Linked DNA regions of Homo sapiens: region 2 is linked to region 1. The links come from fine-mapping of genetic effects on gene expression. A gene starts in region 1. The other region holds a variant in brackets. All regions are shown on one strand. Distances are from middle to middle.

Region 1 (5,385 bases):
ATATGTGTATACTAACCTGTATACACTGTATAATTGTATATCCATCCAGACATCTCTACAGTTATTTCTGTATCTCTCCATCTGTACATACATTAAATTAAGCATGGGTCCATACTGATGTCTCCAACTAACCCAGTACTACAAGGTTCATTCTAGCCTTCTTCTCACGCTTTTCTGTAACTTCTCTCCCTGACAATGAGAAAACTGGCTTGTACCATCCGCCATCTGCTTAGCTGTTCAATCCTAGTCTATTTGTAAAGCAGTTTCCAAATCATTAACCCATACCCCTGGGAGAAACAAATTTACCAACTAAGGTACAGAGTTTATGTATCTTTCCTATTGTCTCATAGTTTCCAGTCAAATACCATTTCCCAAAATTACTTGGGTTAGCTCTTTGAAATTAGCTTACTACTCTCTTGAAGATTTTTCAAGTTAAAGCAGGCATGGATAGTTTTAAGGACATTTCCAGGTACTCAGCTTCCATATATACTGTATTCCATACCTCTTAGTCATCTTCAATCTTGGCATTGCCCAAGGGCATAAACATTTCAAAACCATCAAACAAAAAAAACTTGAAATTATGTACAGTTACTGAGAGACTGGATAAGTATTGGATAATAAATCCTTTTCAAAATCAGAATGGCTTATGGGGTTTTGCTTTTAATAAAATTTCAGAAGACTAATGGAATTATCAGTTCATGATTATAAACCAGTTTTGGTGACAGATTACTATATGATTCTTGAGATACAACTAGACAAAAATTGAGGGACACTTTTAACAAAACTTTTCATTCCTATGTACTTATTTCTCAGCACTTACAGCCTTAAGAAAATGGAAGAGAATCAGTGTTAAACTTCATTGTAGCAAGAAGTTAGCATTCATCTATGGATACAGGAACTAACGGTGCATGGGAAGCCCATCCAGGTCTTAAAGAGATGAATTTTCAATACAATTTTATTTTTTATATTTAATAATTATCAGTATTGTGATACATTTTATTGTGATCAATTGTGTAGTACTAGTAATTTTAACAATTTAATCCAGAAAAACTAAAATTCTATGAGCAGGAAATATAAATTTCCATTTCTGTACTTCTTTCAGCAGTATGATAGGATGATCAATAAGACTTTCAAGTATGAAAAAGATAACGGGTAAAATTCTATCAGGAAAGTAGAATGAAGATATGATTTAATGAAGCATGTCTAAGAATTCTAGGGAAGAAATTTGGGTGTGGTCACTGACACGTGTAATTAAACAAAAACAAGTAGATCATATACCTACTAATATTTTGAGGGAATTTCACTGCCAAAGAAACTAACATTGGATATTCCAACTGCTAAACAACTTTTGGACTCCTGCTACGGGCTGCATTCACCCCCGCCGCGGCCACCCCCAATTCACACACTGAAATCTAACACCAATAACTAATAATGAGACTATATTCGGAGACAGAGACTTTAAAGATGCAATTAGATCAAAATGAGGCCTTTAGTTCAGCCCTAATCCAACTTGACTAGAGTGCTTACAAGAAGAAGAAATTTTTTGTGGCAGGGACGGGGAGGGGGCGGCGGAGAGATGATTTTAAGAAGGAAGAGTAATGATGTAAACTTAGGATTTTTAAGAGTTTTTTGTGGGTTTTTTTTGTGTGTGTGTGTGAGGTGGACGATGGAGGGTACCATATTACTGTAGTGTTTCGATTCAGTTGGATATATTTAACTTGCGTCACTATTTACAATTGCTGAAAATTACATTTTTTTCAACTACTTAAACATTTTAGACAGCAGCTTGATGTGCAAATCCAGAATGGGGCAGGGTGGGATGAGCACTGGGCGTGAGTGCAGACGCTTGGGCAGCGCCGGTTTCGTTAGAAAGTCCCTTGGCAGGCCGCCGCTGTGGCCCAAAGAGTAGGAAGCCGTTCCAGTCTCACGTCCACCTTTTGGCAATATTTGAGACCTTGTACAAGAAACACTCTTCCTGTATCAGTTTAGCTCATTTGTAAAACTGGGAGACTACTGCCTTGACGGGTTGTAAAGAAAAGAGAGAACGTTTGCGAAGCGTCTGGTGCACCTTAAGCAAGAGCGGGGAGCGCTACTGTAGACTGCAAAGCAAAGGAATCCCGACCCAAGGCAACGGGACGGTTGCGGGGTGACTCTGCCGGGTCTCCAAACTCCCTGGCGCCTGACCCTGCCTCGAGGTGGACTGGTCCCCAGGCCATTCCAGACCCGCGCCCCGCCCGCGTTTCCTTGCGCGGCTCCGCCCCGGCCGCAGGGAGGCGCAGCGGCCCCGGGAACCCGGATCCTTCCGGGACGCTTCGTTGGCCCCGCGGAGCCGGCGGAGCAGGTACGCTTGCAGGGGCCGCCCTTAGTTCTTGCCCGGAGCCGCCACAGGGCTTCGGGAGCTCGGCAGGGTGGGGGAAAGGGATGGAGTTTCGGCCTGGGGCGGCGGGGGCGGCCCAGAAAAGGCCTAGCGTCCTGGGCTGTGTGGGTGTAGCGTCCAGGGCGCGTCGGTCTCTATGGCAACGCTCCACACGCGGAGGTCGGGTACGGGTAAGCGTCTTGCCACTCACCCGCGGCCGCTTCCAGGGGCGGCCCTAGGGGAGAAGGAATTTTCCTAATTTGGGGGCTTCCACCCTTTGGTGCCACTTGGGCGGGAGGGTCGCGGGCCCTCAGTTCCCGGCGAGTCACCCCCGGCCCCAAGTCCGTATGCGTCTCTCTCAGAACCCGATCCTCCGGTGTCTGCAGCCTCTCCTGGCTGCGGAGCTGGTTCCCAGCCCCCTGCAACCCAGTACCGACTTCCCACCCTGACGTAAAATTATTCGAAAACAAGCCCCCTGCTCACCCCATTAACAACAACAACAAAACTGTATTATGCCCTAACTGTAGCATAAAGAGGAAATAGAAGGAAAGCAATAAGTAAGAAAGTACATATTTCAATCTGAAAATGCTTGGCACTACTACCCTTGGAAAATGTAGAGAAGTAGCCAGTAGCCGCGCCTGGGGAGTCGCCTGAACGTGACGGCAGCAAATGCAGATTGTTGGGTCTCCGGGACCAGGAGCAGCGTGGCCAGTGAAGCGCGTGGTTTTCCCAAATGGTGAACAATTCTTGGTAAACCTCCAAACCGAAGTGCAATCAAGCCTTGATTTACATGTAGTTGCATTCCTCGAAAAAAAAAAGAAGTGTTCATTAAAACTGCAAAAATACTTAGCATTTCGATGTAAAATAGAGTTTGGTTCTAGCCACAAACGGATTTTTCCACGCACAGGAATGTATAGGAAGACTCTCCAAGATTGTAGGGCCGCGGGGTAATCCTTTATTGTGCGGGACTGTCTCTCGAATCGCAGAATCCTACCATCTCAGGCCCCAACCACCTGTAAACCTCATGCCTCTGAATCTTGGGGAAACAGCTTCCCCACCCCCATATATTTCCAGAATTCCCCCTAGGGGGCAGTACGTCCCCACTAAGAAAGGCTGAACTATAAAAGTGCACAAGCCTAAGGACATTCCTGCTTTATAAAGGTGCGAAACACCGGATATAGTATCTTTCATTCTCAGAACAAACTTGCAAAACAGGTATTGTTATTCCATTTTAGAAATTAGGAAAGTGAGGTTTTGCCAGGTTAAGTGACTTACCCGAGAATACAGGGCAAAAGTGTATCAAAGCTGAGCTATGACCCGTGTCTGACCAAGAAACTCTGTCTCATTTCAGTTATCTGTGGCCACAAAGAAAGTTATTTGTCTCTGTCTTGGCAAGGCTGGGAGGAAAGTTTTAGCTAAGTGAGTTCTTTTACACTTTAGTCATCAGTTTTCTGACTTTGTTAGTCTTTATGAGACGTGTGTGATAAATTTACATTACTCTAATTCCAGGAAACTCAGCCCATTGGAGACCATGGATAAGTACGATGTGATTAAGGCCATCGGGCAAGGTGCCTTCGGGAAAGCATACTTAGCTAAAGGGAAATCAGATAGCAAGCACTGTGTCATAAAAGAGATCAATTTTGAAAAGGTAAAGTTAAGTTCAAATTTCTGTTAATTTTCAGTGGGATATTCAGCTGGCTTTTAATCCAATATAAAAAGGAAATTTTTATTTTTTATAATTTCGAATTTTAAGCCATAATTGATTTTTGTTAATTCAACCTCCTAAGTCCATTGTCCAAACAGCAACCAATGATCTCATTTTTAAAAAGAGGCTGGACGCACTGGCTCACCCCTGTAATCCCAGCACTTTGGATGGCCAAGGTGGGAGGATTGTGTGAAGCCAGGAGTTCGAGATAGCCTGGGCAACATAGCAAGACCCTGTCCCTGCTAAAAAAAAATTTTTTTAATGAAAATAGAAAAGAAATAAGATCACATCCCTGTGGCTCCTATGGCCCTCCTTAGGGTGCCCTGCAAGGCCCTGTGAGATGCCAGCCTCCTCTGTTGCCCTGACTTTTCTCTGTGGTGCACTTCCTCTCTCCTTATTCAGGTCCTCTACGAGGGGTTTTCTGCAAACATCCTAGCTAGAGTAGACCCCCAGCCACAATCACACCTTATCACCTTATCACACCACCTTGGTTCCTGGTTTCTTTTTTGTTTTCTTTTCTTTTCTTTTTTTAGACGGAGTCTCGCTCTGTCACCTAGGCTGGAGTGCAGTGGCATGATCTTGGCTCACTGCAATCTCCACCTCCGGGATTCAAGCAATTCTCCCACTTCAGCCTCCTGAATAGCTGGGACTACAGGTGCATGCCACCATGCCTGGATAATTTTTTGTATTTTTAGTAGAGATGGAGTTTCACCATGTTGCCCAGGCTGGTCTTGAACTCCTGAGCTCAAGTGATCTGCCCGCCTTGGCCTCCCAAAGTGCTGGGATTACAGGCTTGAGCCACTGCTTCTGGCCTGGTTTATTTTCTTACTAGCATGTATAATGCTCTGCAATTACTTTGCTCTCTTAATTATTCATTTGTTTATTGCTTGTCTTCCTCAGTATGCAGAACAGTTCCTGTCACATAATAGGTGCTAAACACATTTATTGAGTGCACTGAATGAATAGAGAAAAACTATATGTAATTGTTGGTCTAATGATTTTGGAAAATAAATATAGTTAATTAAAAATTAATAATTTTTGCTAAATCCACCTTGGTCAGTGTTTATGTCACCCTCTTTAGTGATATGTTCATTTCATAATATATTGGGACAACAATGTCCATTGTTTGCTAGAATTAATTCTAAGGCAAGTCTTGTTGGTCAGCTTCTAGAGGATTTATAAATGAGAGTAGCATAAAAAGTTCCATACAAAGTGTGTGCAAAATGGACTACCCAAGTTACACCATATGAATATACTTAATGCCATTGAACTGTACACTTAAAAATCGTTAAAATGATATAAATTTTATCTTACCACAAAAAAT
Region 2 (5,385 bases), 56 kb after region 1:
GGTAGAATGGTTTGTTTTCTTTTGGATATATACCCAGTAATGGGATTGCTGGGTTGAACAGTAGTTCTAAGTTCTTTGAGAAATATCCAAACTGCTTTCTACAGTGGTTGAACTAATTTACATTACATTTCCGCCAACACTACATAAGCATTCCCTTTTCTCTGCAGCCTCGCCAATATTTGTTTTTTGACTTTTTAGTAATAGCCATTCTGACTCGTGTGAGATGGTGTCTCATTGTGGTTTTGATTTGTAGTTCTCTGATAATTAGTGATGATGAGTATTCTTTTATATATTTGTTGGCTGCTTGTATGTCTTCTTTTGAGAAGTGTCTCTTTCTATCTTTTGTCCACTTTAAAATTTGGGTTGTTTTTTCTTGTTCAGTTAAGTTCCTTATAGAGTCTGGATATTAGACCTTTGTTGGATGCATAGTTTGCAAATATTTTCTTCTATTCTGTAGGTTGTCTATTTACTCTGTTGATAGTTTCTTTTGCTGTGCAGAAGCTCCTTAGTTTAATTAGGTTCCACTTGTCAATTTTGTTTTTGTTGCAATTGCTTTTGAGGACTTAATCACAAATTCTTTCCCAAGGCCCATGTTCATAATGGTGTTTCCTAGGTTTTCTTTTAGGATTCTTATAGTTTAAGGTCTTACTTTTAAATTGTTAAGTCATCTTTAGCTGATTTTTGTATACAGTGAAAGGTAGGGGTCCAGTTTCATTCTTCTGCATGTAGCTAACCAGCTATCCCAGCACCACTTATTGGATAGGAAGTCCTTTCCCCATTGCTTATTTTTGTCGATTTTGTCAAAGATTATATGGCTGTAGATGAGTGGCTTTATTTCTGGGTTCTCTATTCTGTTCCTTGGTTTATGTGTTTGTTTTTGAACCAGTACCATACAGTTTTGATTACTGTAGTCTTATGGTATAGTTTGAAGTTGGGTAATGTGACGACTCTGGCGTTGTTCTTTTTGCTTAGAATTACTTTGGCTATTTGGGCTCTTTTTTGTTTACATATGAATTTTAGAATAGTTTTTTTTTTCTCCAATCCTGTGAAAAGTTACATTGGTAGTTTGACAGGAATAGTGTTGAATCTATAGATTACTTTGGGCAGTATGGCCATTTTAATGATATTGATTATTCCAATCCATGCATGTGGCATGTTTTTCCATTTGTTTATGTCATGTATGATTTCTTTCTGTGTTGTGTAGCTCTTCTTGTAGAGATCTTTCACCTCCTTGGTTAGATGTACTCCTAGGTATTTTATTTTATTTTTTGGTGGCTATTGTAAATGGGATTACGTTCTTGATTTGGCTCTCTGCTTGAATGTTATTGGTGTATAGGAATCCTATTGATTATTGTACTTCGATATTGTATCCTGAAACTTTGCTGAAGTTGTTCATCAGTTCCAGGAACCTTTGGGTCGAGTCTTTGGGTTTTCAACCTATAGTATCATAAGCGTGAAGAGATGGTTTGACTTCTTCTTTTCTTATTTGGATGCCTAGAATTTTAGAAAATATTTCTAGAAAAATGTTTGGTGCTCAAGGCCAGGGAACGGTGGCTCACAGCTGTAATCCCAGCACTTTGGGAGGCTGAGACGGGCAGATCATGAGATCAGGAGATTGAGACCATCCTGGCTAACATGGTGAAACCCCATCTCTACTAAAAATACAAAAAATTAGCTGGGTGTGGTGTCACCCACCTGTAGTCTCAGCTACTTAGGAGGCTGAGGCAGGAGAATCACTTGAACCCAGGAGGCAGAGGTTGCAGTGAGCTGAGATCACTGTACTGCACTCGAGCCTGGGCAACAGAGTGAGACACTGTCTCAAAAAAAAAAAAAGGGAAAGAAAAATGTTTGGTGTTCAAATGAGTCCTCCAAATACTTTTTATTCTCCCATTTTATTTTATTGGTGTTATTTCTTTAGATAAATTATTACATTTTAATTTACTTTTCTTTAAATAAAAGAGCTATTTTACTCATAATATTAATTTTTATCATAGCCAAATTAAAATAGAAGACCTGATACATTGTCAACAACTAATATACTGACCTAAAAAATTGAACAGGTACCCTGAAACCAGGCACATTTATTTTAGGTCTTAATTAGTTATTGATAACTTTAAGTAAATCTCATTTATGCATTTGGGCTCTCCTTGCCACAGCAAGGAGTAAATACAGTAAATCCAATACAGTAAATCCAAATTTCATTTTATTAGTTGATTTCAAAATCTTTTTTTATCCTGGTTTTATCAGACCTATAACAAATGTCAAAATTAATTGGTTTATTTTTCCATTTTACCTTTTCTGAATTCACCTTTTAAGTCAATATAAGTATGAATAATTATACCTGATGCTCAGTTTTTATTTAATGTTCTTTATTAGCTTAAAACATTTTCATGTTAGCATTTCTTATTTTTATGAGCATTTGCTACATAAAGACTTCATTAGAGTGGTGATAGTTAGCATTCACCTCTGTTCAACCATAAATTCCTAAATGCCCCAGAGGTGAGACATCAGAGTGGAGCAGATCTGGGGACCTGCTTCTGAGTGGGAACTTGAGAAGTGGTACTCTCACAGAGCTTCTGTGAAGTGAGGTGCTGA[C/T]GTTGCCCTGCTGAAATGAAAGAATGGAGTCCAAAAAGTTTTAACTGCCACTCTTTCTTATTCTTTGCTTTGATCTGCGTGAAACAGAAGTGGTCATTTTGGTATTGACTACAAAATACTAGGAGCAGATTTAGGGAGCTGGTTAAGAATGTTGTACACTTAAAACAGGGCATGAATGAGAAAAGCTTGAGAGCACTGTAGAATGGAGCTGAAGTGGAATACTATTGAAGTCAGAAAGTCTAGATAAAATTAAGTTGCCTTATGACCAGTGCTTGACACTGTTAACATGGAGAAGAAATGAAAACATTTCTGTTTTTATCTAACATAGCTCTAGTTTTAAAACTCTATGGATTTATTTGTTTAGTAAACATTTGTTGAATATTTACTATATACCTTGCTAATTAATTTTACTAGGAACACGAAAATATGGTTTTTCTTTCTTTCAAAATATGGCTAATTTATCATGAAACACTGTGGAATTGATTTAGGCAATGGATATACCAAATGAAACTTTGACCTTTGAGGATGGCATGAAGTTTAAGGAATATGAATGTGTAAAGGAGCATGGAGATTATACAGACAAAGCATTTGAAAAACTTCACTGCCCAGAAGCAGGTATGTGTTTCTTGAAAGTTGTAAATGAGAAGGAACTGTTTTATTAGCAACCCATTTTGAACTCTGTCCCCATGCATCTGCCTCGGCTCCACTGTTACTTGACCCCTTTCTGCCCTCTCTAAGCAAGGCAGAAACACACTTATTATTCTCCTGCCACCCATGCAGTGGCCACACTCCCTGAGATCCAGCCCTCCTCTCCTGCTCCATACCCACTCCCTCTTGCAGCTTTGGCTTCTCCCAGGAGCTCCAGACTTACCAGTCTTTCTCATTGTCTTCTGGGAAGCTCCATGGACAAGTGTTGCCAGTATCTGAAACTCAGCTGTGTAAAGTCAAGCTCTTCTGTGCTCTTCCCAGTGACCCTTTATTTTGGTTAGTGTCACAGATGCAACTGGCTGGGGCCAGTGTTGTGGGCAGTAAAAGAATTTATCAACACAATTGTAAGTAAAGAAAGGCAGATTTATTAAAGTACAGAGATACGTTGCAAGAGTGCAATGGGCAGCACAGCAGAGAAGAGGCTGTCTGCTAAGAGGCAGGGGCTAGAGGGAAGTTTTATAGGGTCATATTGGAGGAGCTACATGCTGATAAGGTGTGCAGATAAGGTTTTGCTGCTTGGGCTACATGTGGAAGGAATGAGGTATTTGGGAACAGGATGTGACAGCAGCTTGTCTGTGATGAGTCATCTCTCAGAACAGTTGTTCCCCCATCCCCACCCCCAACCTGGGACCCCTCCCTTTTTGTTGTTTACTTATCTTATGAGAACTTCACAGTCAGTGCTGTCACCAGGGTGCACCCTTAGCATAGTGTCTATTCTGAGATGTCTCTGGAGTCTTCCTCTTCCTTCATTCTCTCTGTTACTGGTTTAGGGCTCTGTCATCTCTCAGTAGTGTGGTGTAGGCTTCAGAGACAGATGGGAATTGAATCTCAGCTGTTGCTGCCACCTTCTGGTTATGTGACCTTTCTTTCACAAGTTATTCCAACACTGAATCTCAGTTTCACCTTAGGAACAGGGGATAATAGTAGTAGGAATAACCACACAGGGTAATTGTGAGGACCAAAGTGAGTTTTGATGTATAAACGACCTGGCACATACTAGGTGCCTAAATTAAGTGCTGTCTTTTCATTTTCCCTTTTCCTTCCCCTTGCTGTATTGCCTTATTTGCTTATGTGACCTTCTTTCTCTAGTATTTCCCCTTCATTCTCTAAATGGTTACTGTATTAGTCCATTTTCTTGCTGCTGATAAAGACATACCTGAGACTGAGCAATTTACAAAAGAAAGAGGTTTAATTGGACTTACAGTTCCACATGGCTGGGGAAGCCTCACAATCATGGTGGAAGGCAAGGAAAAGCAAGTCACATTTTACATGGATGGCAGCAGGCAAAGAGAAAGAACTTGTGCAGAGGAACTCCTCTTTTTAAAACCATCTTATCTCGTGAGACTCATTCACCATCACGAGAACAGCATGGGAAAGATCCGCCCCCATGATTCAACCACCTCCCTCTGGGTCACCCCACAACACACAGGAATTCAAGATGAGATTTGGGTGGGACACAGCCAAACGATATCAGTTACTAAAGTTATCTTGGCATATTATTACTCTGCTCAGATTTTTTTTTGGATAATACCTGCAGAATAAGGTCCATTCCACATATTATCACATTTAACACTACATGGCCTAATTCTGCTGTGACCCACTTTTCTCATCCCAGCATGGCCTCTTTCCTTCCATGGAAAATGGGATCCATACAGCCTGCTGGAATGCCCATTTTCTCCTACAGCTGGAATGCCCATTTTCTCCTACAGCATTTACAGAACTGACTTGGCTCAGTTTCCTCTTCCTGGAATACTCTCTGCCTCATTTCCTTCTGGAAAAATCTCCATTCAGCAGGCATCTTATTGAGGATCTCCTTTGTGCCAAAGACTGCTCACTGGTAGGGAGCTCAAAGATGAATGAAATCTGGGCCCTGTTCTCAATATCACAGAAGTGTTATGAGCAAAAAAGTCACAAAACATGTTTTCTGAGCCTGAAATGTTAATCACTGTTTGAAGTGCGAGCTGGGTGGAGAGTCAGGGAGGTCCGCACTCCTCCAGGGCTTCACATGCCATCATTTTTGTGATTGAGAAGGATCATGCTGGCTGCAGAGCAAAGGATGGCATGGAGGGCAAGACTGAAGGC

The links. PIP is the estimated chance that this variant, and not a neighbour inherited with it, causes the effect.
Region 2: its variant is the best candidate, but not a certain one, in a credible set for the expression of NEK5 in lung (TOPMed, PIP 0.62).

Annotation. Positions count from the first base shown.
Region 1 is chr13:52,125,985-52,131,369 of GRCh38, reverse strand. It overlaps NEK5 (NIMA related kinase 5), which reads left to right and starts at 2,297. Exons shown (of 24, transcript NM_001365552.1): 1 at 2,297-2,341; 2 at 3,708-3,775; 3 at 3,866-4,004. The coding sequence starts at 3,888. It overlaps LOC101929657 (a long non-coding RNA gene), which reads right to left and starts at 2,475. Exons shown (of 2, transcript NR_110306.1): 1 at 1-2,475.
Region 2 is chr13:52,069,769-52,075,153 of GRCh38, reverse strand. It overlaps NEK5 (NIMA related kinase 5), which reads left to right. Exons shown (of 24, transcript NM_001365552.1): 20 at 3,084-3,210. Among named protein-coding and RNA genes, the nearest start is that of UTP14C, 48 kb to the right of the region's middle. The variant C/T (reference allele first, on the strand shown) is at 2,596.